2 linked regions of the Homo sapiens genome follow. The protein of the gene in region 2 interacts with the protein of the main gene of each other region in a pairwise test. Each region holds a gene or a part of one and is shown on either strand. Other genes may lie near its edges.

Region 1 (3,823 bases), on a different chromosome or scaffold from region 2:
AGTCCGAGGCGGGTAGATCACGAGGTCAGGAGTTCGAGACCAGCCTGACCAACATGGTGAAACCCCATCTCTATTAAAAATACCAAAAAATTAGCCAGGCGTGGAGGCAGGCGCCTGTAATCCCAGCTACTCAGGAGGCTTGAGGCAGGAGAAGTGCTTGAAGCCGGGAGGCGGAGGGTGCAGTGAGCTAAGAACACGCCACAGCACTCCAGCTGGGTGACAAAGCGAGACTCCGTCTCAAAAATACATAAATAAATAAACAAATAGTTTTGTTTGGGCCGGGCGTGGTGGCTCACGCCTGTAATCCCAGCACTTTGGGAGGCTGAGGCAGGTGGATCACCTGAGGTCAGGAGTTCGAGACCAGCCTGGCCAACATAGTGAAACCCCGTCTTTACTAAAAATACAAAAATTAGCCGGGCATGGTGGTGCATGCCTGTAATCCCAGCTACTCAGGACACTGAGGCAGGAAAATTGCTTGAACCCAGGAAGCAGAGGTTGCAGTGAGCCAAGATCGCACCACTGCACTCCAGCCTGAGCAACAGAGTAAGACTCTGTCTCAAAAAAAATTTAAAAATTGTTTTGTTTGATAAAGTCTAGATCTCTAATATTTTTATGCCCAAGCCCTTTGGATGCTGTTGTTCTTTTCAGGTTTTGTGTATATAGAGCTAATTAAGCTGAAGAATCCTGGGAATAAAGTTTAAAATAAAGGTTAAAAACATCTCTGAATGTGAACAGTACCCACAGCCAGCACATACCAGCTGATTCCACTGTTGCCTCTGACGCCCCTTGCCACTGTCTTCACTCCAAATGCACCCAGCGCGGAGCAGCCTGCACTCCTGGGGCAGGAGGAGCAGTGAGCAGGTGCGGCTGGCAGGATGAGGCAGGACTGCGGGTCTGCCTGCTCCAGCTGCGTCCACTCTGCACCACGGTGGTGCCTGGTGCCAGGCTGGTGGACAGGCTGGTGACAGGGGACTCAGGGGCGATGGGTGGGCCTCCAGCCCCCAGAGCTGACCCTCTCTCTGCCTGGAGAAACCTGGCTGGCTTGCTTTGAGCCTCTCCCAGCCTGTCACTGGAAATCAGGTTCACCTGGGGCTGGGGTTACAGAAGTAACAGGTCAAGCTAAAGGATGGTCATCAGGGCGGGGAGAGGACCCTGCAGGACACAGGCGAGGTGGGGCCGAATTGAGGGCTTCTAATGGCAAAACTTGATACAATGCAATGGTGTTATTTTCAAATGCATAGAGACATTTAATGTATTTTAAAAATTAATTTTCTCACAAGTGGTACCGCAGGAGGTAAAGAAGTAGAAAACTGGCCGGGCACGTGGCTCACACCTGTAATCCCAGCACTTTCGGAGGCCAAGGCGGGTGGATCACGAGGTCAGGAGTTCAAGATCAGCCTGGCCAAGATGGTGAAACCCCGTCTCCACTAAAACTACAAAAAATTAGCTGGACGTGATGGTGGGCACCTGTAATCCGAGCTACTCAGGAGGCTGAGGCAGAGAATTGCTTGGACCCAGGAGGCGGAGGTTGCAGTGAACCGAGATCGTGCCACTGCACTCCAGCCTGGGTGACAGAGCAAAACTTCATCTCAAAAAAAAAAAAAAAGAAGTAGAAAACCATCATCTCCTCCTTAAGGACTGCACTATAAAGAAGCAGGATAAAATATGATTTGACTTTCAGTTCAAACTTGAAAGTGATGACTTTATAAATCGTGTTTTATATCTCGAGGTGGTTGCCAAGGGAAACCAGAAGAGTAGCTGTATTAATCAGCAAATCCACCTCTGTCTGAAGAATCAGAGGGAGCATGGAGTGTGCATGTGTGTCCAGGGGAAGATCTGCAGAATTGGAGGGAGCACGGAGTGTGCACACGTGTTCTCGGGGAGCAGAGAGTGTGTTTGTGTGTCCAGGGGAAGATCTGCAGAATTGGAGGGAGACGGAGTGTGCATGTGTGTTCCTGGGAGCAGAGAGTGTGTACGTGTGTCCAGGGGGAGATCTGCAGAATTGGAAGGAGCATGGAGTGTGCACATGTGTTCTCAGGGAGCAGAGAGTGTGCACGTGTGTCCAGGAGAAGATCTGCAGAATTGGAGGGAGCATGGAGTGTGCACGTGTGTTGCCGGGGAGCAGAGAGTGTGCACGTGTGTCCAGGAGAAGATCTGCAGAATTGGAGGGAGCATGGAGTGTGCACGTGTGTTGCCGGGGAGCAGAGAGTGTGCACGTGTGTCCAGGGGAAGATCTGCAGAATTGGAGGGAGCATGGAGTGTGCACATGTGTTCCCGGGGAGCAGAGAGTGTGCACGTGTGTGCAGGGGAAGATCTGCAGAATTGGAGGGAGATGGAGTGTGCATGTGTGTTCCTGGGGAACAGAGAGTGTGCACGTGTGTCCAGGGGAAGATCTGCAGAATTGGAGGGAGATGAAGTGTGCATGTGTGTTCCTGGGGAACAGAGAGTGTGCACGTGTGTCCAGGGGAAGATCTGCAGAATTGGAGAGAGACGGAGTGTGCACGTTTGCCCCGGGGGAGCATGGAGTGGGCACGCATGTCCCAGGGGAACATCTGTCCAAGGCAAAGAGGAAGGAGCAAACCCCAGCAACTGTGTCACTTTCCATAACGGAGGCTCTGATGCTCGTCTCCGGGAAGAAAAGCTCCCTCAGTGGAGCCTTCTCCCAACATTAAACATTGGAAACAGAGGGGAGGGCCAGGCCCTGCACCTGCACCCCGGTGTGTCCACGCACCGTGTAGTCTTGAGGGAGTGGCTCAGCCTCTCTGGGCCTCACAATATAACCTCTCTCAAGATGATTCCCCCTCTCAGTAAGTGAGGGTTATTATTATTAGCTCTTAGCAAAAATGAAACAAAGAAAGAACAATGGGACTTTTATGCTGGGAAAAGGACACTGAAGAAACAGCCAGGAGAAAGGATTGGAGAAGACAATGAGGCCCTCATGCTGGGGAAAAGGGTGGGAGGCAAGAGGTGGTGGCATCTGGTGTAGTTAATCCACCCCCCTCCCTGTCACCAATAAACATGTGCAAAAGGCCGGGCGCGGTGGCTCACGCCTGTAATCCCAGCTACTCGGGAGGCCCAGGCAGGCGGATTGCCTGAGGTCAGGAGTTCGAGACCAGCCTGACCAACATGGTGAAACCCCCATCTCTACTAAAAATACAAAAATTAGCCGGGCATGGTACACCTGTAATCCCAGCTACTCGGGGGGCTGAGGCAGGAGAATCACTTGAACCCAGGAGGCAGAGGTTGCAGTGAGCCGATGTGGCACCATTGCACTCCAGCCTGGGCGACAGAGCGAGACTCCATCTCAAAAAACAACAACAAAAAAATGGGCAAAAGGCAGAAAACTCAGCACTCAGAGAAGGGACACAATCTGGTGTTGGAAGCACCAGCTGGGGTGGCGGAAAGGCAGGGCCCTGCTGTGCCCCGACCATATCCTGGGCCAGCCTGGTGACGCCTTCCTTCTACCCCTGCCTGGAGAGAAATGGAACTTCCGAGGGGAAAGAGCGTGAACCGGGGACCCAGCTGCCAGACGGAAATGGGGTCCAGGCCACCAGGAACCAGGGGTACCAGCGTGTGTGAGGTGTGTTGCAGAACAGAAGACACTTCCCTGGGTAACCAGCAGAGCAGTGGGGCCCGCACGGTCCGTGGGCTGAGGTGACAGGCAGAGCAGTGGGGCCCGCACGGTCCGTGGGCTGAGGTGACAGGCAGAGCAGTGGGGCCCGCACGGTCCGTGGGCTGAGGTGACAGGCAGAGCAGTGGGGCCCGCACGGTCCGTGGGCTGAGGTGACAGGCAGAGCAGTGGGGCCCGCACGGTCCGTGGGCT
Region 2 (3,823 bases):
AACAGCATAACCTGCTGATTTAAAAAACAGAATCGTTTTAAAAAGTTCAACTTAAGCTAAATAATCAGGGTGATGATAACAATAACCACATTCAACAATTCATATATAAGTACTATATGTTAAGAATTAGTCCATCATCATCACCATCAAAGGTAACAAAAACATTACACATTTTGGCCAGATAATTGGGACATCAAAAAGTAATTACTATTGGAGTTACACAATCTGTAGCCATAGTTATCAGCCCAGCTAGGCTCACTGCTTATTTGTTTTGTGTGTGTGTGTTTATTATTTTTAGTCAAGAGATAATTCAAATATGATAAAATTCACCATTTTAAAACGTACAATTCAGTGGCTTTATTATATTCACAATGTTGCACAACCATCACCACTAAGTCCACAACGTTTTCATTACCCTAAAAGAACCTGTATCCATTAGGAATCATTCCCCATTCCTTCCTTGTCCCAGTCCCTGGCAACCACTAATCTACTTTCTATCTCTATTCAGAGCCTGTTGCATAGCAAATATTTTCTATCCCGCTTTAGAATGGCTAAATGAAATTTTGAGATCATATAACCTATCTATTCATATAAGTTTTAGCTATGCTTACTATGCACCTATTATCATTCTGTGCATCCCACTTAATACAGTTTGTGCATTCCCCCATGTCACTAGCTATGCCTCTACAGTATCGCTTTCAATGGCTGAAGGAATTCCATCAAATAGATATTGCATAGTGCATCTAACTAATCCGGTATAGTTGGAATTTACATTTGAATACTGAGTTTTAAAAAATCTTGGAACCAAGTTTAAACATTTGTGTTTTGCATTTCAAGAAGTGATTTCAAAAAGAAGCCACAGGTATTAAATCCTTTCTTTGCATCCGTATATTTAGAGCCTCACATGGAGGTGAGACAGTGGGACAGAGGAAAGCTGAAAGCCTCTGTGTCTATCACCATACCCTGTGTGTAGAGCAATTAGGAGGCTAGCCCTTTTTTATGATAAGGAATTTGGTAGCCCATATGGTGGCAGTCCCTACATAAACTTTCACTGCTTAGAAGTATTTCCCAGAGATTGTATTTTAAAAGTCCCAGAATAGCTGTGTTAAAGACAAAAGTAAAGTAAGATCAAAAGGGAACTTACGTTTATTTGGCATTGTTTGTGTGGGCAGCACCTTATCCACTCACAGCTAGTCTTCGAAGCATTAAACTTTATTTCAACAAAGTGTAACATTAACATCCCAGCCTGACTTGCTTCTGACTTCTAGCACCAAAAATAGAGCCTTTTCTATGACTTAGGTGCAGAATCTACCCGTATAGGAATTAGCATTTGTATGAAAAGAGCTGAAACCCAGCTTCTGAATCAGCCAGGATTTTATTATTTTATTTTTACTACAGAAGCAGAGACTATCCTAATAAATCCTCCTTTCTTCTCCTAGCACACTTAAAAACCCATCTTTGAGCTCCACTGACTCCATTAGGTTTGAACTTTGGTATTAAGTACACAGGGAGGAAAAGAGTAGGTGTGGGGGTGACGAGAAGGAGAACAGAGAGAAGCACAGGAGAACAGAAAGGAAGGGAGGCAGCTTGATGCTACTGCTGCGGTTATTGCTTCACTCAAAAACAATGAAGCAAAAGCAGACTATGTCAAGAAGCAAAGGTGTGTCAAAGACACCCCAGGCTTAACATGGGGCTGCACAAACCCACAGGAAGCTCACATGCTATTTCCTAGACACTCTCTCACATGAACCACTTTGACTTATGTTTCCGGACTCCTTGATTTAGTTTCTGTTTTAGCGTTTGCACAATAATAATTTTACTACTAAAAGTAAATGTCTTGTAAACCAATGGGAAACATATTGTTTGGCAGAGTTTATAATGTCAGGATTTACGGCTCTAACACTGAGGGTCTCTCTGACCTCGAAGATAACATAATGAAACAGCAATGTGCTGCATATGACTCGTTGTGATTTTTTATTAGTTCTCATAATCGCCTCTTATTAATTTGTATGCACATAATAAGCACTCACCTTCACAGTCTGTCCGGCTTCGGGGCCATCCTAGAAGTAGGAAAAAACCAACAGAGGTGAGAATAGATAGATGGTATCTCCTGCTTATTCAGAAATATCACCCATTAATAATTTAGATGCAATTTCATTGTGTGTTAATTTATAGTATTCTCATGGGGACCATTGGCTTCAAATGTGCGGGATTAGACAGTTCTCCATTTCCGCCTGAGAGTAAGTGCGAAGTTATGTATAAAAATGATATAAATTATCCAGCAAGCCAACTCCTTGCTACTTTTCATGCTCTTTGCTCTAGGCTATGGTTTTAATTGCATTAAAGGAAGGCTGAAAATGTTTGGGGAGGTGAAGTATCACACCTTCTGGTTATGTTTAGAGGTGGTTTAATTAATGTCTGATTACTTTAAGCTTCTACTCAGGAAATCTGCTATAAACATAAGCCATTAAGGAAGAATATGGGGTATTTCATATGGGAAGAGTCCTCTGGCTATTCTGACCTTGTGGGAGACAAATGGTAGTGTTCATTGTAGCTGGACCCTTTTCCCAAACTGGTTCCCTTTCTCTGTTTCTGAAGCTTAGTTGGAAATGGGCAAACTCACCAAGTCACCAGCCATAATATAAAGCAAAAGCAGATACTCAGCTGGTTGAGATGGCCAAACAAAGCAATGGCTCCACAATCAGAAATTCCAAAATAGAATTTCACCTCTGCAACTTTAGCCAGGTTTGTCTACCTCTATGAGCCTGACTAACGGGGTGAGAACTCCCGCCGTAAGGATTAAGCATAACTGTGTATATCAGGGATTTTCAAACTTAGAGTCACAATCCATTAGTGGGTCATGAAGTCAACTTAATGGGTTGCAATCAGCATTACAAACAATGTAAATCAGGTGTTTTTTTTGTTGTTTTTTTTTTTTTTTTTTTTGAGAAAGGGTCTTACTCAGTTGTCCAGGCCAGAGTATGGTGGCATGATGGCGGCTCACTGCACCCTTGACCTCCTGGACTCAAGTGATTCTCCTGCCTCAGCCTCCTGAGTAACTGGGACTACAGGCATGCACCATCATGCCTGGCTAATTTTTGTATTTTTCTTAGGGACAGGGTTTTGCCATGTTGCCCAAGCTGATCTCAAACTCCTGAGCTCAAGAGAGCTGCCGGTCTTAGCCTCCCAAAGTGCTGGGATTACAGGTGTGAGCCACCACACCCAGCCAGAAATCAGATCTTAATAGAATAAAAACTATTAGACTGCACAGAATGAGTAAACATTGTTTTGTGAAACTCTGGTTTCCTTTATCAATATAGGCATATGCATATATTTCATATATGTGTGTCAGGGGAGACAGGCATGATTTTGAAATAAATATGTATCTTACTGTAGGTTACAGTAAAAAATAGTTTGACCACATTGCATATACGAAAGTACTCTAGGTGCTAACACAAGTCAGCTCTTACATTTATGGAATTAACTTTCTAGTGAAAAATGTTCCATAACCAGCAATGGCCATTTCCTATAAATGTGATTTTTATTCTTGTATCTCACTAAACATTAACAGAGGTTTTCATTCACTGCCTTCATTTAGTCTCTCCAGAAACACGGTTTGCAACATAAGCTTGATAAACCCACTCTGAACTGAACTACCTGCCTGAAGGGGACTCAAATGGTTTGACATACAACACATACACACAAAGCATTTGGGGGAAGTTTAGCTACTCTTAACACAGACATGGCAGCAAAAAAAGAAAGAAAAAAATCTGTTTGAGAAGAAGATGAGCACTTTTAGTCAGAGCCTTCATAACCTGAAAAC

What was found.
Region 1: the proteins of FHIT (region 2) and RAB40B interact in a two-hybrid assay, tested with the Homo sapiens proteins (one large-scale study listed by BioGRID and IntAct).

Annotation. Positions count from the first base shown.
Region 1 is NC_000017.11:82,688,376-82,692,198, forward strand, and holds part of RAB40B (ras-related protein Rab-40B), read right to left. Parts: intron 1-3,823. UniProt on the Homo sapiens protein: RAB40B small GTPase acts as substrate-recognition components of the ECS(RAB40B) E3 ubiquitin ligase complex which mediates the ubiquitination of target proteins.
Region 2 is NC_000003.12:60,009,341-60,013,163, forward strand, and holds part of FHIT (bis(5'-adenosyl)-triphosphatase), read right to left. Parts: intron 2,061-3,823; coding exon 2,031-2,060; intron 1-2,030. UniProt on the Homo sapiens protein: Possesses dinucleoside triphosphate hydrolase activity. Cleaves P(1)-P(3)-bis(5'-adenosyl) triphosphate (Ap3A) to yield AMP and ADP. Can also hydrolyze P(1)-P(4)-bis(5'-adenosyl) tetraphosphate (Ap4A), but has extremely low activity with ATP.